Linked DNA regions of Homo sapiens. The protein of the gene in region 3 purifies or fractionates together with the protein of the main gene of each other region. This does not show direct contact. Each region holds a gene or a part of one and is shown on either strand. Other genes may lie near its edges.

Region 1 (7,026 bases), on a different chromosome or scaffold from region 3:
AACAGGCAAAGAAGATCCAATGTGCATAAAATAGGAATCCCTGAAAAAGAAAAAAAATAACAGAATTAATATTTAAAATTATAATCTTAAAAAAAAACACTTTGCCAGAGATAATAAAAATTCTGAATCTACATTTTGAAAGGACTCACTGAGTACCAAGGCAAAACAATTGACCCATATCAAGTAATCCTGAAGTACCTTGCAAAAGTACTATATTTCAAAGATAAAATCTTCAGGGCCAGCATCTTTCTTAATGCAAACACAATGTAAGCATTTCCTTTAGACTGAAACAAGGCAAGAATGCCCACCATCTCCACTACTATTGAACACAACTGTAGTGATGGCACTAAACAATATAATTAGGCAAGAGAAATTAGAGTTCTAGGAACTGAAAAAGAGGAAGTAAAACATCTCTATTTGCAGATATGATTCATTCTCTAAAAAAAAAAAGAGAGAGAGATTTAGGCTGCTTGCTTCTGCCTCAGAGTTGGTGCTGTCATGGCCAGTCAGTCTCAGGGGATCCAGTAGCTGCTGCAGGTTGCTGAAAAGGGTGTCTGAGACCTGCAGTGAAAGAACCGGAGGGAGAAGCAGGCCAAAGCAGCAGTTCAAGGTGAAATTGAACAATATTGCCTGCAGAGGGAGAAAGAGTTCAAGGCCAAGGAGGCTGCTGCCCTGCGATCCCAAGGCAGCTGCAGCATTAAAGTAGAGGAGACCCAGGAGAAGAGAACCATCTGGAAGCAGTTTAGGCAGAAGAGGGGTGAAGTCTTGGCCTTTTTCTGCAATATCTGGTAGTCCATTCCTGCTAGTGGTTAGAACAATGAACACTAGTATAATTGTTTGGGCCAGTTTTAGTTACTTAATCAAAGAGGACAGAATTCAAGAACTTGTTACATGTTACTACTTGGTGTACTGATAATCATTTAAAAGTAAAGACTCTTTGTCATGCAAAAAAAAACCCAAGGAGGATGAATGAGAAAATTAACTCAAACAATAGAAGAATTCAGTAAAAAAGCAGAATATAAAATTTATCACTCAAAAAAAATCAATAGCTTTCTTACATACCAACACAACGAGTTCAAAGATATAAATAGTTGAAGCAATTTTGATTTACCATACATTAAAAAAAAGATTAAAGACAAAAACAACTCTAAACTAATATTTAACTCTAATTAAATATTTAACTCTAATTATTAGGCCCCATGCTACTGTATACCCCACAGAGGTACAGTGCTAGCAATTCTGAAGCAATAGTTTCTCTGCATTCTGAGACTCAGCAAAAATGTAAACAGATTGTGGAAATAGGAGCCCTGTTTCTTGTTTTTTTGTTTGTTTGTTTGTTTCTTTTTTTTTTTTTGTAGAGACAAGGTTTCACCATGTTGCCCAGGATGGTCTCGAACTCCTGGACTCAAGCAATCCATCCACCTTGGCCTCCCAAAGTGCTAGGATTACAGGCATGAACAATGGTGCGTGGCCAGAGCCACATTTCTTAATGTTGAATAGGCAGTTTCAAATATAAAAAGGAAGGAGGCTGGAAGGAACTCTGTGCTATACCACCAGAATTACAGGTGTCAGTAAAAACTTTGTTTTTTACTATAGACAGAAAAAGAAATATGTATTCTTAATTAAAAAAAATAAACATATAGTATATAACACTTTAGGAAAAATGAGTGCCTCACAAAGGGTAGGCCACCAAAGCCCCCAAAGAATCTACCTATGAACACTGAGCATGAAACCACTGCAGGGGGGTGAGGGAGACATTAAAAACGATACTACACACTTAATTACTATCACCAAGAATGTAACAAATTAATTCAACAGTCATTCAACAAATATTAAATACCTGTGATGAACAAGTATTCAATATTTTTTACTTTCTGGTGTATTTTGGAAACAGACATTCCAATTTTACACAGATATTGTATCTTTACATCTTTTTGAGTACTTATTTCTTATTTGGAATTTTTAATCACATCCCATGTGGTGTTAGGCACTGTGCTGAGGGTTTTATATACAATAGTTCTTTCTCTCGACACAAACAGCAAATTTATAAATTAGATATTATAAACCCTACAAATCTGGAGCCTAAAACTCATAAAGAATTGGTACATATACTATGTGGCAGACGCTCAGACATTAAGCCAGTTCTATCTGATTCAAACGCTATTGTTTTTACCTATGATATGCTGTATCCTGTCTGGGAAGACATGCACATATTATACAGAGAGAGTTCATTCCCAGGCCATCCAAAGAATTTCTCTTAGTCTATAATGTAGCAGAAATGATGGTAAAACTCATTAAAATGACAGATCTGCTTCTTGTAGATCTTACTACTCTCCATGGTACTTAGCCAATCTCTTGCACTTATAATAGAAAAGCACTAAGTATTTTTTTAAATTATTAAAATCAAGTTAACCATAATATTAATAATATTGACTTCATATCTGGCAGATAGCATGCCTGTCATACAGAAGACAAAAAGGAATCAAATTTCTTTTCTCTATCTTCATTTATAATCAATCTATATTTAGTTACCTCCTACGTTATACCAACTATGCATAGAAGAAATGCAATAATGATTTCTGGTACACTACAGACTAACAGAAATTTACTAAATGGTCTAGGAATGAAACTACAAGTATAATCTCCATGTATAAGACAATATTTTCAAAAATATATAGTAAAAAAACCATGAAAAGAATTAAAATGTTCACTAGAACATATTCACTTAATCTAAGAAAAAGCAATAAAGGAGAAATAAGGAACAAAAAAGGCATGAAACATATAAAAGCAAGTAAAATGACAGCTTAAAATCCAACTATATTAATAACAACAATAAGTGTGAATGGATTAAACATTCCAATTAAAGGCACACATTGGCAAACTGGATAAAAAGACAAGAGCCAACTATATGCTGTCTATGGAGACATACAATAGATGCAAAAATATAAACAGGCTGAAAGTAAAAGGATGGAAAAAGATATATAATGGAAACAGCAACCATAAAAAAGCTAGAATAGTAGTATTTATAACAGGCAAAACAGACATTAAAACAAAAAAATGTTACTAGAGATAAAGAGGAACATTTTACAATGACAAAAGGAAGATTAAAAAAATTATAAACATACATGCACCAAACATCCAATCTCCTAAATAGATGAAGCAAACACTAACAGAATTAAAGAGACTTCAATACCCTGTTTTCAATAATGAATAGAACAAGTAGGCATAAGATCAGCAAAGTAGAAGATTTGAACAACACTAAAAAACAGATATCTATAGAACACTCCACTCAACAACAGCAGAATACACATTCTAATCAAATGTTTATTGAACATTATCCAGGATAGATCAAATGCTAAGCCATAAACCAATAGTTACAGCTACACAGGGCTACTGCCTACTGTATTAGATAGCTGCCATGCATAGATAGTACATACTCCCTGATGATAGCATCCTAAGATGAGCTGGAATCCTTTTCCTCAGTAGTTTTGAGAAATATAAAGTGGGTACAAAAGCCCCATCTAAGATACTAGTACACTAGTAACTCACATCCCCCATAGGTCACCTCTATTCCTTGATCTTACCATGTTAACCACTTAGCCACAGGTTAAAGATTTTTTTCTCAACTTGCCTTTTTTCAGATTCTGATGAAGAAACACATAACGATCTAAAACTCCAAATGCAGTCTTTCTCATTACATGAAAATTTTTGTTCTTTAAAAATAGTCCTGTGTGCCATTAATATTTATACCATTTTGAAATCAATAAATACAACTATATAAAATATATAATGGTAAATGATACTATGTAAATAAAGTACATTTTTATGTCAAAGACGTAAAAAGACATTACTTACTGTGCTTTTATCTTTCAGAAGTTTTTCAATTACTTCAATTAACATTTCCTTCTGCTCTGGATCAAGGCTAAAAAATACAAAAATAACATATTAATTTTTCCCTTTAATTCTAGCTTTACATGATGCTCACCAATTCAAGGATGTTGAGAAATTTTTAAAGAGGGAAAGGAGAGCAAGAATTATAAGTTAGAAATAAAGAAAAACAAATAAAATGGGATGGTTTTTCTCATGAATGTGTCCTCATCTTTCCCTCTAATATTGTTCATATTAACTAAACCAGATATCAATGGTTTAGTTAAGATAGTACTGAAAGAACAAGTTCACTTCTAAAAGAGTTGGAAAACTTCAAGAAAGCGACTGTAAGTAGATAAACCACAAACTCTTTTCAACTGGGAGGAAAAAAATAACTAGATAGCAGTCATTATTTTACTATGCATACATACTTCCCAAAAACAAATATGGAGAATTTCCAAATAAGAATTTTATATCATACTAGTTCACTGATAGAGACATGCATTATAAAATCTGCCAACTAAAACTAGGAAAAATAAGAGGTAGTAATAAGCTTAAAACATTTGAGATAGAATACTAACAGACTATAAGCTCAAGGCAAGGAGAGGCAAGCATTGAGGCTGGAATATACTGGTGCCCAATGATAGAAGGACTTTTAAGCCGTTAGAGTGAGCATGGATCTTATCCCATAAGTTTCTAAGGAGAAAAGGTGAGTGAGAAGCATGATAAAACCTTGTCTGGCAGTTAACATAGGAATATGAGGTTTCACTTTCTACAAACATACACATTTATTACTAAACATTATAATTATCTGGACAAACTTTTTAATTCTTTCAAATTTCAGCTTAAGTCTTCCTTCTCAAAGCAGTATTTCACTACCAATCCCATCTCATTACATCTTTACTTTCCGGTAACAAAATATGATCATCTCTGGTCCCTGTCCTATCAAAGACATTGCTAGTGTACCTTTGTATATACATATATATCAAGTGCTAATATCTTATTCATTATAGATTGCCTTTAATTATTTGGTATGTCTTTGATCTTCTTCCTCAAATACATGATATGCTATTCATAATTAAGTGCCACATCCTCTACTGTTTTCATACATCTAAATACACATAGCACAATACTGTGAATACAACACCAGAAACAGAAGAGAGTCTCAAAAAGCTTGAGGAATAAATGATAGCTGAAAATAATACCAAATTGTTGTAGACAATTCTATTTGGACAGTAAATTTTCCACAGAGATCAGGGCATTGTATAATATTGCATAACATTTCTAAAATATCACACAGATATGGTATAGCACACTATATTTCAAATCACTACACTTTTTAAAATTACTTAATAAAATAGCTCTGGAAAAGAATTAGACAACGAAGGGAGCAGCAGGAACAAAGATGGAAGAAAGGAAAACACATATAAGTGAGTTGAGAGGATCAGACACTTAAGATTCTACCCTAAACAGGAAAAAAAAATCTCAATTTTCTAATAATACAAGCATATGTGTACATGAGATAGACTATATAAATGAGAATTCAAATTCTGATTATTCTTAAGTTATAAAATCTATAAATTATCACAGGCTCTAACAGCCTCACAAATAAAAACCTGCATAGGGTCTCTATAGCCAAAACGAAATTAAAGATGTGTAAGGAACATTTGCAGCAGGGGGAAATACCATCATACAGTCACTGGATTTACTTAGTGTAAGAGCAGCCTACCTAAAAGAGCGAATAAAACAAGCCTCTGTGGTCTATAACATTCCATGTAACATCAGAGATCTTTGGTATATTGTTAACAATGCACCTACCTGTATAATTTTTGTATTGCATGGGCTGCATTCTTCCTAACATATGGTGATAAGTCAGCAGAAGCTTCCTTAATAGCAAGCATCATGATAGGTACAATAATTGGCACTCTAATACTTGACAGAACTCTCAAAGCGCTTGCACGAATTAGTTGGTTTGGGTCCTAAAAATAGTGCAAAAATATTCACCAAAATTTCAACTTTACAATATTTTAAACATATCTTTCAGACACAGTTAATAGGTGCTTAAAGGGTGTAATATGACAATAGCAAAAGAAAGCTACTTAATTTAAAATGAACAATTAGTATATAGGAATGGGAAAAAAAGACAGACATAAATGTTTACTTCTTTAATAATGTTTTAAAGAAAAGTAATAGTTATAATTCTAGTTGGTCATTTATTACTAAATATGCTGGGTTTTTATACTTTCATAATAATAAAATGCTGCAGGTCATCAATTTCATGTTTAAAAATGTCTTATAACCCCTTTTGCGTACTTTCAACAACTAGTATAATGATAAACAGCTCTTTGAAGCATGAAAATAATTATATTGAATATAAACAAACATACAGAAGCTGTAACATATACAGCAAGGTTTCAGTTGGTTGTATAAATTATTTTCTAAGTGTACTGAGTAGGCACTATAGGAGGCTTTTAACTCTTTCAAGACACTACTGTGCTATTTAGTGGATTATCGCTCCACTTCTTTAACTGACACACTTTCAACTCTGCAGAAACCTTGTAGCTATTTGCCTACTCACTCCATTATTTACCTTCAGAGCTCGCTGAAAAGTGCTTATGGACAGGAGTGCAAGATCCTGCTGTTCTTCAGCATATCGAACCAGGTAAACATATACCAACTTCTTGATCTGTTAAAAAAAAATCATTTATTCATAACCAGAGTGAAAATTTAAAACTCAGTATTTGCTATACCAAAATCCATGCTCAATTCTTCTCAAGTAAATAACTGAATCTGGTCACATGTTAGATTGTAAAATAAAAATAATATTTTGTGGGATAATAAGTACAACAGGAAAAGCTTTTAAAGTAAGCATTTTAATAGTCCAGTTCACAATAGCAATAGCCTATCAAAGTGTCCCTTCCTCTTGAAGGGAATAAAAAATCCCTGAGCAGATCTCATATAAGAATATTAACTAAATTGTAAAAATATTTTCAAAATGAGGGATAAAAATAAAAGAAAGAAGCCAGGCATGGCGTACATGCTTGTAGTCCCAGCTACACAGGAGGCTGAGGCAGGAGGATCACTTGAGCCCAGGAGTTAGAGGCTATCCTGGGCAACACAGAGAGACCCTACCTCTTTAAAAAATAATAAGAGAAAGAA
Region 2 (7,026 bases), on a different chromosome or scaffold from region 3:
TCCTCCATAGGACTCAATAAATTACTTTTATTTTGAAATTTTCAATCAGAGACCTTATAAACATTTCTTTTGCTTACATGGTTTCACACAAAATAGTTGCTCATCACCACGTACATGGAACTTTTAAAAAAGTAATTCACACAGTTAATTTATGGTGTGAAAAAACGTACAGGAAATATCAGAAGAAAAATTAGTTTTGTAAAACTAGAGGTCTATTAAAAATATTTCCAATATTTGCCAATACGCTTTGCAAAAATATTCAGGGTTTTTAATTCAATACTAAAACATTAATATATTTTTATTGATTCTGATTATGACATGTTTGGATGTCAGAAGGTTTGCTACAATGAAAACCCATTGTATTTTGGTGATTTGGTAATTTGGTAATTCCATTTTTCGAGCATTCTAGTTTGAAATACAGTCAAGTTTTATAAGATTTCTGATCTTATTTTCTGTTGGCCACTGTTAATATGCACCTGCAGGTCAAAACTGTAAAAGCAATTCTGTTAAGACTTTGGAACTGAAAACCATTTGAGGGGAAAAAGTACTATTTAACAGTCACTATTCTAAGCCTTCACTGCTTCCCATTTTGTATGCAAAACTCTGAAGGTTCAGCTTTTGGTTTTTAAATTCACAGCTTCCAAAACCCAGCAGGCAATTTTATGTTAGAATCCTAATTTAGAGATGGAAAAAAAACAAATCTGTGAGAGTTAAATTAAGATTGGTTCTGCTATATGATGCTCAAAATAAATTTTACGTTTTTATATACAAAGTAAATTGTCACTTCTGCAAATGCAATTTGTCAGTTAGATGACAAGTGTTTAAAAAAAATTTAAACTTTCCTTTTACAATGCAGGCAGACAAAACAGAACAAACATGACATCAATGATATACTAGTAAAATACACTAAGTCCAATAAAAGATGAAGAAACTACAAGGAGAAACTAGAATGGAAAATAGGCTACAGGGACTATATGGGTTTATTAACACAAAGAATTTTTGAGTCTGGCCTAAATAATTAATTGCCTTTGACATCATTTTGCTTTCCCTTTGTTATAGTACATATTTCTCAAAGTCAGCAATACCTTGTCTACCTGTCCTGTCTGGGAGACTGAAAGATAAAGGTCTGTAAGAGAGAAGAATGGAAAGAGCTAGAAAGATCAGGATGTTCGGAAAAAAAAGAGGACTGACTTTCAAAAAGTAGTGACTAAATTCAGACCCATTTATCCATCTTAAGAATAACATGAAATACATAAAAGCTAACAGATCTCCCCAACCCCACCCCTCTACCTCCACCCCCAGGGAGTCCTTTTATTCTTAGGCAGGTTCCTGAGTGCCTCTTATACTTCCCCCGAATCCCATCAACCTCCCAGCTTAAACCCTCCTCTCCCAATATTCCAATGTTATAGTAAACCATTTTTCTATCAAAATAGAATAGATGGAAATACATTCAGAGTATATCTTTGCTTCTCTCTTTCAGGATCTGGCAGAGCTTTGCTTCCACCTGTCTAGGTATTGGGAATTAAACTGGTTCACTTTTTTCCATTACCAGAAATGTACTAACTTTAGACCAACATAATAAAAGCTCTGATTTCTGACAAAGGCCCCTAGATAAATGCATGTTATGTTTAAAAAGCTGTGTCTCAATTATACCCAGACTGATTTTTAAATATAAATGATGTTCCTAAGATATTACTTAAATAATTTTTAAAAATATTGATAACCAGTTCTTTTCATCAATCATGACATTCTCGATTTTAAACAAGTCTTTTTTTGTGTGTTTGTTTTTGAGACGGAGTCTTACTCTGTCACGCAGGCTGGAGTGCAGTGGTGCAATATCAGCTCACTGCAACCTCCGCCTCCCGGAATCGGGCGATTCTTGCGCGTCAGGCTCCAGAGCAACTAGGATTACAGGCAAGTGCCACCATGCCTGGATAATTTTTTTGTATTTTTAGTAGAGACGGGATTTCACCATATTTGCCAGGCTGGTCTCAAACTCCTGACCTCAGGTGAGCAGATCACCTGAGTGATCCCAAAGTGCTGGGATTACAGGCGTGAGCCACTGCGCCCAGCCAAACAAGTCATTAAGTTTGTCCTTATATAATACATTTTAACTGAAATTTAGTAAGAAGATTAGGAAAAGTTTATACTTTGTTTCAAGTAATTTTGGATTATTCTGCAGAGTAATATCTCTGGTAAATTTAACCAATTGAAGTAACATGGACATGAAACATATGAAAGCTTTTGACATTCTAGCTGGAATAAAGCTAGAAGCCTTTCAAACATACTTAAAATATACAAAAGCTACGAAAAATTAGTCATCATAATTTTCAGTGCTGTTTTAAAAAGATGATCAGGGCTAAATGGCCTCACTTTGACTTGAAATCCGATTTCATAACTAAAATATTAGCAGACGTTACATGTATAGAAAATATATAATTTTGTAGTTTATCCCCAATCAGACTTAAAACATACTTTCTTGTAAAAGACAAAAGAAGAGAAACTAATTTGGTACCAGATAACAATTATGTATGATGCGAGATGATCAGGGAATGAATAATAGAAGTAATCACCAGTATTCTAAACTATTTTAAATAGCATTATTTCTGTGAATAGATTTTAAGTTATAGTATTCTTATAACTATTTCCATTGAAATGTAAATTACGCATTTTACTGCTCTTTATAGATAAGAAAAATTGCCTCATTAACGAAGTTTTATTCAACAATCAAAAAGCAAATACCCATTATGCAATAATTATAGGTCCTTCATAACTTTTGTCAATATAGCACATTAACCCATTTATGCCGGAGGTTGCAAACTTTTTTTTGTGAAAAATCAGACCTTGGGGATGACCTTGAGCAGTAGGATATAAATAACTCCCACAAGCTTAGCATTCCAATAATGGAACACCAGGCATAAATGTCTTAAGTAGCAGAAGAAAAAGAAGGACCACCACCAATGAAAAGGAGTTAACTACCTAGAAAGGTGAAAATTCCAGACAACTGGTCAATATTTTTTACAGATGATTATGCAGAATTCACAAATTACTAGATACTCATTCATTTATACCAGTTATTAAAGGATTGCATCACTGTTTGTCCCTTGGCATTTAAAATCTATAACCATACAGTTTTGCAAAGCAATGTTTAACAAATGACACACATTTTAAGTTCTTTTAAGACTTTAAAAGCAATAGCTCAGGGTTTATAATAATCTTTTCTTTACTAAATAATATATTGCAAGTCAGTTATACTAAATTAAATTATGAGTCTTTTTCCTTGTCCTAAAACAAAATTTTCTCTATTAACCTAATTTATGTTTTCCACTTTCAAAAGCCAATATTTTAAAAATTGGCTATAGGACAAACAAAACATATAGTTAGTTAAGATAATCTTAGCTCTAAATCACCACTATAAACTTCTCCTTTGGGAAACCAACAGGAATGGGAAATTGAGATAAAGAAAAATGCAAGACTATTTTAAATTTAAAAGAGAACACTGGAAAATGTTTTATAAGCTTCAACTGTTTCTAGATTTGAGATTTATTCTTCACCCTGTGTTTTCTTCAATTAAAATGGACACAGAATTGAATTGAGTTAAACTGATCCTTTAAAATGCCAACAAGGTAAAATTTTTCAGAACTCACCTGTTGTAAATTAATGCCAGTGTATTTTTAAAACCTTGATGCTTTCAAAGTAATATTTACTTTAAATCAACGAAACATCTGAGCTTAACACTAATAATTATAAAAATAAAGTCTGTTTTTTCCAATCTGAGTTATGACTGCAAATACCAAATGTAAGAGTATCCTCAAACAAGTTGGGTGGTGAATGAGATATCAAAATTATTGATCTTTCTTTTTTTTTTTGAGATGAAGTTTTACTCTGTTGCCCAGGAGTGCAGTGATGTGATCTCGGCTCACTGCAACCTCCACCTCCGGGGTTCAAGTGATTCTTGTGCCTCAGCCTCCCGAGTAGCTGGGATTACAGGTGCGCTCTACGTGCCCAGCTAATTTATTTATTTTTTATTTTTATTTTTTTAGTAGAGATGGGGTTTCACCATGTTGGCCAGGCTAGTCTCGAACTCCTGAACTCAAATGATAAAACTACTGATCTTTCTAAACCTCTGCTAGGGTAATAAACAACCAAAATAATGTGAACCCAGGTGGCTCAGCTACAGCACCTGCTACTGATATTCAGACTAGTGCTTGAGGGAAGAGTCACTACAATTCTGAAGTAGGGTTTTATACAATGCTAAAGTGCTGGCTGTTCCTCATTTATCCCATCTAAGGTTGAATCTAACAGCAGAAAGTTAGCTAAGTATAACAAACCGATCTTATAGAATGCAATAAAGACCATGGATATATATGTACTAATGTCTAAAATATGTGACTTAACTAACTTGTCAGTGAAATCTTAGGGAAAGATTTAGAATTAAAAGATTAAGGTATTGAATTTCTTTTTTGAATGTGAACTCAAACATTCAAAATATTTATTTTGCATTTATTAATAACTTGAAACATTACTTACTTCCCTGTAAGAATTCCATTTCCTGTCCTTTCCCTTTCCAGAAGTAGTTTTGTAACACAAAATTTATATATCTTTAAAATATTAGTTCTAAGATTTCCTTGATAATTACCGACTGAAGTTTTACAAAGCAAATATTAGATTCCATTATTCAGATAATTCTTTTAGGCAATAAGATTTGGAATTGTGCTTATTACCCAAGGCAGCTATGACTGTGGCTAAAAGAAGAATACACAAAGCTGTTGGGTAGAGAACAGTCACAGAACCTTTAGCATACTACGTGTATATTCCATTTTTTAAAAACTGAATAAGCATAACGGCTGAACCTAAAGGGTGATACTGAAGGACAAACAGTGAAAACTACAAATCATGCGTAATCTGTCATCATGCTTAGAACCTTCTTAACTACAGCATTTTCCATTCTTACCTCAGATTTTTCCAGCTTATTTTGTGCATCAATTTGTGTAACAATCTCATTCATATTTGTCTCCAATACCATTCCCCCCATCACCATTTCTGCAAGAATATTGTGAACCTAAAGGGAATAAAAGAATATATACCCATAAAGAAAATTCACTAAAAAGAAGTTTCATGATTCACTTTTTGTTTCAAATACCACTTTGTCTATGTTAAAAGTATGAGTGGTAAAAACAACTTGGAGTAAGGGCTCATAATCCACTTTCATCACTACTGTGAAGCCCTAGGCAGTTATATAACCTCCTTAAGTCTGAGCTTAATGGGCTATAAAACAAAAACAATAGTACTACCTTCATAGGACTGTTGAAAGGAATAAGCAAGGTAATCCAATGCAGTACTCAAAACAAAGTAAATGACTAGTAAATATTAACTACCATTATTATTATTATTATGTGAAGTTTAATACTAAAATATGATTTATAAGAGCCTTTTATGCCAGATTCTTAGCCAACAATAATTAGGTTATTATTTTACACTCATGGTACTTAATGAAGCAATGTAGTACAGTACTTCTAACAGGCTCTAGATTGGAAAAAGGTAGAATTTTTTAAATTGTGGGTACTTTAATAGTGTTTTTACCCCCAAATCCTCTACACATGTAATATTCAGATTTCTTCTAATAAATACATCTTACAATGACTAAAAATGATGTCTTCCATTGGGGAGTAAAAATATAACTTCTGTCTTTTCATAAGGTATTATTGGATCAAAAAATCAACAATTCAGAACTGAATTACATTTCACAGAAGAATCTATTCTGCTATAATTTTTTTAAAATAATGTGGTAAGGTTAGAAATGGAGACTCCAAAATTAGATAAGTATGAATACAGACTCTACCACTTATTACTTGTAGCCCTTGAGCAGTTACTTCAGCTCTCTGAGTCTGTTACCTTATTTACGAAATAGAGACAGAAATAATATAGGCACCTCATAGGATTACCATAACAATTAAATAAATAATTTATGTAAGTGCTTAGCATAGAACCACTAGGTATTATACGGTAATTTTTTTTTCAACAAACTCTTTTTAGGAGTTAAATATGTATTACTCAATTTAAATTTCTTTGTAAGATTTCACGCAAATTTATTCATAATTTAAAAAATATCCCTGGAGGCTGGGTATGGTGGCTCACACCTGTAATCCCAACACTTTGGGAGGACAAGGTGGACAGATCACTGGCAATATGGCAAAACCCTGCCTTTACAAAAAATGCAGACAATTAGCCAGGCATAGTGCCTCACGTCTGTACTTCCAGCTACTCGGGAGGCTGACCCAGGAGGACTGCCTGAGCCCGGGAAGTGGAGGGTGCAGTGAGCTGAAATCACACTACTGCACTCTAGCATGGGCAACAGAGTGAGACCCTGCCTCAATTAAAAAAAAAAAAAAAGTCATCATTATTTACTATTTTTCATTTTGGAAGCATGGACACCTCATGCACAAATTCTGAAGACAAATTTATATAAATTAATCTTCCTAGCCAACCAAACCAAACCAGACATGACAGTGTTTTGAAAACTACCGTAACTTAAAAAAAAAAAAAAAAAAAAAGAATATAGGCAAATGACTAAAAGTTCATACAGAAACTTATGTATGAACAACAATAGTCTCTACCACACTCTGCATCCGTTTTTAGGTCCCTTTATCCAAAGCTACTCAGCTAGCTATATCTTAGGTATCCTAGAAAACTTGCTGTGCACATACTTGTTATACGTGTGTATATGCATATCTAATTTACACAAATGAGAACATATTATATACATTAATTTTCGCAGTTCTGCAAGAAAATAAAGAATTGAAAGTTAGAGGAAGGAAAGAATGAGAAATTAAGTTAGGAAAACCATAAAAGAGACTGGTGCCTGATATACATATGACAGTGATAAATGAAACTGTGTTGGTAAGAGCAAACAAACAAAAATATAAAAATTTAAAACAGTGAATCAACATTAATTATTAGACACATATTTTTATAATGAGATCTCTCACTGATCTCTGTCAGAGAAGCAAGCTGCAAATATGGAAA
Region 3 (7,398 bases):
TTCCACATACTGGGACTTATACTTACGTTTTCACTGTGCAAAGGGGCCGGTATGTTGCATGAGAACTGAAATTCCAGAACAGTAGTACTACAGAGTATTGCAGGGAAAAACAAAAAATGTATTTTAATTCTCTTGGGAAGGGAAGTTGTTCTAGACGTGGTGCAGATATGAGTACAAGAGAAGGAACTCTTTGACTTGCTTTTTAACTTTTATCATAGTGTGTGGGTCCTCATTCTCTTCTCCAATTCCACAATTCCAGTGTTCATATGACTCATTCCAGACCTCATATGACACAGAAGTTAAACCAAAAGGCCCTCGCTTCTCATTTGAGTTATGCAAATAACCACAACAGTTAGAAGTTGATTGGTTCTTTTGGGAGAAAGTTCCTCTGTGTGAATCCAGGGCCGGTGCTGTCTGAACTCCTGTGCTGCAAATGGTGTCGTGTCCTGGTATCACTGACCTCCCTTGGACATCACCCCCTAAGTTCTTAACATCTATTCCTGAAGAAAAAGCTTAAAATGAAAACTGCCTCATAAAATGGCTCACTTAAATTCTTACAGGCACATGAGATTTCCCAATCTCATCTTTGCAAGCAGAGCTCATCAGTACCACTCTCTCACTATAAAGAACCACCTCAAACCTGAGAACTAGTACAGGTTCATGAGTTACCCCTGACTGGGAGAGTTAAATTAAGCATTCCTTAGCTTTTTCTACTTTTTCTTTTCTAAAACTTTATACAATCACTTTCTGATGCAACTCAAAGCAATGCAGATAACAATGGTTAGGATCAAGACCACCAGGCAAAAACAATCTAAACTCTAATTTGTGAGCAAAAAGTAGAATCAGAGCTAGAAAGGCTATATATAGTCATCGCAAATAGGATGACTTTCCCACGCAAGAGGTTCAAAAGTATTCCATTTGTCATTTTGCATGCAGCCAATTCAATAAATAGAAACCAGAATCTTATCAGATGGGAGAGGAAGTGAGTAATACCAGAGTTTTGATTTTTTTTTTTAAGTTTCTTAATGGAGGCTTTACACAATGGAAACAGGACTACAAAGACACTTTACGGTTTACATATATGAACTTTCCCACATTCACGAACCTGAAATGTGTCCACCACTCGGTGAAGAAACTCAATGACAAACAGAGGGGGGACCTCCGTCTGGATCACGGCCACAAAAAAGATCTTGTGGCGGTAAACACTTAAGAGATAGTGGTGAGGGGTAGGGATAACCGGAGGCACATTTTCTGCCTCAGTAGCTCTCTCTTGCGCCTCAAAAAAGTAATCACAAACAGAACGGCTGACCACACTTTTCCAATGTTTCTCCAGGAAAATGTCTCCAGAGGAGTTGATCAAGAAAAGACTATGGATCATGGTGGCGATTGTCAGTGACAGAAGAAAGCCTTTTTCAGTCTGAAAGCCTCAGGACTCTGTAAGTTTTCAACTCTAAAAACAAAAGCAGCGATATTCAGTTCCATTCAACCAAAAGGCCCTCCCCATCTTTTCCCAACAGTCCAAGACTTACCCATCTTTCAAGACCAGGCCCAATCTTCCCCTCCTGCATGAGCCTGAAGATAGCCCTCCCTTGAATTCGAAACGATAATGATCAGTCATCTGACTGTCAATCATATACTCCCAGTTATCTTTACTATCGCCCAAATTGCATCCATTTAAAATACTACTTATCTGTGGGTGTCTATTTTCTCAACCGAACCGCAAACTCCTTGAAGAAAAGGGCCGTGCCTCATGTTTTGCGTTGCCTGACTGCAACACAATCAGTGTTCTTTGAAGAGGGCTTCCAAGAACACTGAATTTGATGTCATGTTTTGGCAACAGCTCACACATACACAAGAAATGCGCAGCTTAATACGATAGCCACTATGGGACCAGCGAGCACTTGAAAGGTGGCTGGTGCGGACTGAGGTGTGCTGTTAAGTGTAAGACACACGACAAATCTGAAAGGCTTTGCATGAAAAAAAAAATTTCAAATATCTTACCAATAATTTAATATTGATTATATGTTGTAATAACATTTTGGATATCCTGGGTTAAATCAAATATATTAAAATTAATTTAACCTGTTTTATTATTTTAAAGTGGTTACCAGAACATGTACAATTACATATGTGGTTTGCTTTCTATTTCTGCCCACCAGAATTGGTGGGAGGAATGGAAAGCTGCCCTTGGGGGTCTTTATTCATCCAATCAGAGCTATTCTCTGAGCACTCCTTAGGCACTTGTTAATGCAGTAAGACATTTAAAAAGATCCCTTGGGGCTCCCGCCTGTGATCCCAGTACTTAGGGAGGCCTCCGCGGGCAGACCGCTGGAGCTCACGAGTTCGAGATCAGCCCGGGCAACAGAGGGAGAACCCCGCCCCCTCCACCTCCAAAAAAAAAAAAAAATTTCCCTGGGGGACAGACACCCCAAGGCCCTCAGACGGTTGCATCTCTCTGGTGCCAGTCGCCAGGATGTGGCCATTCCGCGAACCGGCGCGGGTGGTCAAAACGCAGAGGCCTGCGGTGCCCAGCGCCGCCTGGAGGAGACAGCAGGAGGGAGAGACAGCCAGGCAGCCCGGGGTGCGAGGGAGAGGCAGCGGCCTAGGCAGGCGGTCCCTGCGCAGGCCCCGGCCCAGAGCCGGCGGCGACGGAGGCCGCGGGGCGCAGGCGGGCAGGGGCCTGGCTGAAGGGGCACGCGCGTTCCGGGGTGAAGAGCGCAGGGGTGCCGGGCCGCGCCAGCGAGCGCACGTGCGCTGCCATGGCAACAGTGTCCCCTCCGCCCGCAGCCGCGGCGCCGGGAAGGACGCCCTCCCCGAACTCTGAACCCGGCCCCTCACCTCTCCCCGCCGCGTCCGCAGCCCTGAGAGGCCGCCCGGCTGCATCCTGAGACCCCGCCCCGACCCTCGCGCGCCCCCACTCCTGCCCCCTCTCCAGGCTCGGGGTCGTCCCTACTCCTCACCTGGCCTTGCTGCTCTCAGCGCCCACTGCTCCTAGGCGCGGACAGGCCCCGCCCCGCCCGCCGCGCGCGCTGAGGCAGCCGCTCGCCCGCTGATTGGCCGGCCCGCGGCCTGGCTACCGCTCCGCCCACGATCTGCGCCTGAAGGCCGCTGATTGGGTATCTGGGAGCCGCTCCTCCCCTCTGATTGATCGCTGTTGGCGGCTTGCCCTGTTGTCGGGCTCGAGTCCCCCGATTGGCCCTGTTGAGGCCACGGTCATCTCCGATTGGTACAGCTCCGAGACCCCGAGTCCTGATTGGAGGTCGAAGACAGTGCGTGCTGCTCGGCCCCACTCATCCAGTCACAAAGGGCTGGGGCGGTCGCCGCGCTCGCGTGTTTGCGGAGTGCGCCTGGAGGGGGCGCTGGAGTATGTGTGTGCCGGGGCGGGGTGGCTTCCGGGCACGAGTTGCTGACAGCGCCTCGCGGTTGATAAATCCTGAGGGCGGCGGCTACCCTGCACTCCATCGGTGCCTTTGGGAAGCGCCGCCTTCTCTGTTGTACCCGGCCGTGGGTCAGGTCGGCGCGGCTGGCGGTGGAGTCTCGGACACCGAGCCCTGGACCCCGACTCTGGAAGCCCCCAGCCCCACTGGGCCGCGGCAGGGCGCCCACCCTCCACAATCTCAGTTCCCAGCCGGGGAGTGAGGGGCTGGGCGGGTCTCTCCACCGCTTTGGAGACCTCAGGACTTGGATACGCTTTTGAGTGGTCCCAGTCGTCCTGATCCACGAAGGCGTGGAGTGGAAGTCAGGACCAGGGGTCGCCCCAGTGACGCAGGAAGTCAAGCCCAGATGCGGTGAGGCGTCGCCAGCCTTGGACCCAGCAGTGGGCGCTGGTGACAGTGGCGACCTCGCCGATGAGAGGTTCGCCCTCCCTAGCATTAGTTGTCACTTTGGTGAAATGGAGCGTGGGTGGCAGCTCCTCCACACACAAGCCCTTTGCTGAGGTGGTGCGGGGGGTTCTCTCCACGCTTGCTAAGGGCAGGTAGTTGGCTGACTTTGAACTATGAAGAAAAGCCAGAAACAAAATGGCAGAATGGTATGACTCTGGGTGGGCTTAGGGACGCTGGTGCCAGAGGACTTGGCTTGAACCCGCTCCAACACTTACAACCTGAGTGACCGTGAGAAAGAACTGTAACTCCTCTAAACTTCAAGTTCCTCACTTCTCAAATAAGAACGTGAATAGTACCTCCCTCCTAGAGTTGTGAGGATTGAGTTAGAAAATGCTAGCAATTGTTATGCCCTAAGGAACAGCACAAGATACAATAACACGTGATAATGTGTGTCGAAGGTGCAGAAATGCAGTCGCTGCCGTGAGAATTTCTCATTCATTCACTGAATTAACATTTGCCGAAAACCCCCACGTATCGACCTGTGCTGGATGCTGGAGATGCTGCAATGACTGCTGTCACAGGCATTGTCCCTGTGGTTACAGGGCCCAGCAGGAAAGACAAATGAGAAGCAAGGGATTGCAATGCAGTGTGATGAATAAGGAACGCATAGGGGGTGGGAGGAGTGCTGTAGAGATGGCTGACCTAGAGTCAGGGAAGACCCTCTACCTTGAAACCTGAAAATGAGAAAGGATCCCTCAAATGCAGGGATAGATGGACAGAGAAAAAAGTACATAAGGAAGGCTCTGCAGATGAGCAAGTTAAGTATAGCTGAGCTGGAATGGTAGGAAGAGCGCAGGGAGATCAGGCTGGAAAGGTAAGTAGGGAGCCTAGTGGTTGTGAACCTTGGAAATGTTAATATTTATAAAACACTGTGTGCCATACACTGTGTTTTATAATTTGTAAGTACCATTCCATAAATATTTAGTGAGCCCTACCATGCGCCAGGCACTGTTCCAGTGCTTGGATACATAACACCAGTAAACAAAAGACAAAAATCTCTTGGAGCTGGGCGCGGTGGCTTACGCCTGTAATCCCAACACTTTGGGAGGCTGAGGTGGGCGGATCACTTGACGTCAGGAGTTCAAGACCAGCCTGGCCAACATGATGAACCCCTGTCTCTACTAAAATTAAAAAATTAGCCAGGCGTGATGGCACGTACCTGTGGTCCCAGCTACTCAGGAGGCTGAGACGGGAGAATCGCTTGAACCCAGGAGGCAGAGGTTGCAGTGAGCTAAGATCGCACGACTGCACTCCAACCTGGGCGACAGAGTGAGACTCTGTCTCAAAAAAAAAAAAAAAAAAAAAAAAAAACCCTGTCCTAGTGAGGCTTATATTCTAGTGGGGAAAAGACAGATAATAATCAATATACATAAGTAAAGTATATAGTAGGTTATAAGATGGCATGTGCAATAAAAAAAAACTACCAGGAGTGTTATGGGATTGGAGGGCAAATTACAGTTTTTAAGAGAGTAGTGAGAACAAGCCTCATTGAGAAGAGACATTAGTGCAAAGATTTGAAGAAGGCAGAAGAGTTAACTATAGGGAGATCTTGGGGGAGAGCATTCCAGCAAAGGGAACAGGCACTGCAAAGCCTGTAAGGCCAGAATGCTCCTGGGGAGTTTCTGGAGCAGGAAGGGTGACAGTGTGGCTGGAGTGAAATGAGCGCAGGGTAAAGGAGGAGACAAGGTTACAGGGTGGGTGGCCTGATCACACAGGGGCTAGAAAGCTCTTTTAAAGATTATGGTTGTGAAAGAGAGAGCCCATGGAGGGTTTGGACAAAGGGGTGATAGGATCTGATTTATCAGTCATCTGGGTTGAGAAGACTGTGCAAGAAGACTAGTGAGACCGCTGCAGTGACCCAGGCGAGAGGTGATGGAGCTCAGACCAGGCTGTAGCCATGGAGGTGGTGAGGAGGAGGTGGACTGTGCGTGTAGTCTCCAGGAGGAGCCAGCTGGATTTCCAGATGGATGGGATGCAGGGAGTGAGAACAAGAGAGAAGGGAGGGCCACTGAGCTTCAGCATGGAGAAGGATAGTTTCATCAGCTGAGACTAGAAAGACTATGGGTAGGCCAAGCACGGTGGCTCATGCCTGTAATTCCAGCACTTTGGGAGGCTGAGGCAGGTGGATCACCTGAGGTCAGGAGTTCGAGACCAGCCTGGCCAACATGGTGAAACCCTGTCTCTACTAAAAATACAAAAATTAGCCGGGTGTGGTGGCGAACACCTGTAATCCCAGCTACTCGGAAGGCTGAGACAAAAGAATTGCTTGAACCTGGGAGGTGGAAGTTGCAGTGAGCCAAGATTGTGCCACTGCACTCCAGCCTGGGCAATAAGGCAAGACTCCGTCTCAAAAAAAAAAAAAAAGCAATCACAAATCTGATAATGTTTTAAGAGAGTTTATGAGTTTGTGTTGGGCTGCATTCAGAGCTATCCTGGGCCGCATGCAGCCTATGGGCCTTGGGCTGGACAAGCTTGCTATAAAGGAATACCTGAGACTCGGTAATTTATAATATTAAAAAAAAAGAGGTTTATTTGGCTCATGGTTCTGTAGGCTATGCAAGCGTGGCACCAGCATCTGCTCAGCTTCTGGTGAGGCCTCAGGAAGCTTTTACTCATGGCAGAAGGTGAAAGGGGAGCGGGCAGTTGCATGGTGAAAGCAGGAGTGAGAGAGAGGAGGTGCCAGGCTCCTTTAAACAACCAGCTCTCTCATAAACCAACAGAGTGAGAACTCACTCATTACCATGGGGAGGGCACCAAGCCATTCACGAGGGATCCAACCCCATGACACCTGCTAGACCCACCTCCAAAACTGGGGATCACATTTCAACATGAGATTTGGAGGGGACAAACATCCAAAGTATATCAATATATCTGTGAGCTCCATTAACTATCCAAGTGGAGATGTTGAGAAGGCAGCTGGACATATAAGTCCAGGGTTCAGGAGAGTGGGCTGAGCTTGAGATATAAATTTGGGTGTTTTCAGTATATGGATATTTAAAGTAGTAGGACCTGTTGAGATGACCGAGGGAAGGAGTGTGGAGAGATAAGAGAACCAGATTCCAGGGACACTCCAAATTTAAGAGTTCACATAAGAGAGGAGGATCTGAAATCATTTAATCCCCCCAACTACTCTAAAATGAATTACCGTTGTGATCCCCTTTTCGTAGATGAGGAAGCTGCAAAGACAGCTTAAATAACTGCCCAAGGTCGAACAGCAAAGCTGTGATTCAAGGACGTTGGAAGATCTGAGCAGAATGGCTCAGATTCCACACTTCCTACCTCTAAGCCCAGGAACCCATTGAAGAAATGTGAAGCAGGAGAGTGGCACACTTTCAGATTTCCATTTCAGAAAGACTATGTGTGCAGGATGGACTGTAACAGGCTGAGCCTGGAGGCTGGGAGGTTATTTAGACAATTGCAGTAATCCCTAGGAGAGAGCTAGTGCCTGGAGCCATGAGGCAGGGATTAGAGAGAAGTGGACACCTTCCAGAGAAGATAGGGATTAGGGATTAAT

Evidence for each region.
Region 1: the proteins of AP3M2 (region 3) and AP3B1 purify together in Homo sapiens (affinity purification with mass spectrometry; 3 studies listed by BioGRID and IntAct, with this or other methods). This does not show direct contact.
Region 2: the proteins of AP3M2 (region 3) and AP3S1 purify together in Homo sapiens (affinity purification with mass spectrometry; 3 studies listed by BioGRID and IntAct, with this or other methods). This does not show direct contact.

Annotation. Positions count from the first base shown.
Region 1 is NC_000005.10:78,221,687-78,228,712, forward strand, and holds part of AP3B1 (AP-3 complex subunit beta-1), read right to left. Parts: intron 6,554-7,026; coding exon 6,458-6,553; intron 5,847-6,457; coding exon 5,686-5,846; intron 3,923-5,685; coding exon 3,856-3,922; intron 1-3,855. UniProt on the Homo sapiens protein: Subunit of non-clathrin- and clathrin-associated adaptor protein complex 3 (AP-3) that plays a role in protein sorting in the late-Golgi/trans-Golgi network (TGN) and/or endosomes.
Region 2 is NC_000005.10:115,900,921-115,907,946, reverse strand, and holds part of AP3S1 (AP-3 complex subunit sigma-1), read right to left. Parts: intron 5,063-7,026; coding exon 4,955-5,062; intron 1,127-4,954; coding exon of another isoform or gene 1,091-1,126; exon of another isoform or gene 1,086-1,090; intron 1-1,085. UniProt on the Homo sapiens protein: Part of the AP-3 complex, an adaptor-related complex which is not clathrin-associated. The complex is associated with the Golgi region as well as more peripheral structures.
Region 3 is NC_000008.11:42,148,668-42,156,065, reverse strand, and holds the start of AP3M2 (AP-3 complex subunit mu-2), read right to left. Parts: upstream 3,004-7,398; 5' UTR 2,961-3,003; intron 1,589-2,960; exon of another isoform or gene 1,530-1,588; intron 1,451-1,529; 5' UTR 1,379-1,450; coding exon 1,106-1,378; intron 13-1,105; exon of another isoform or gene 1-12. UniProt on the Homo sapiens protein: Part of the AP-3 complex, an adaptor-related complex which is not clathrin-associated. The complex is associated with the Golgi region as well as more peripheral structures.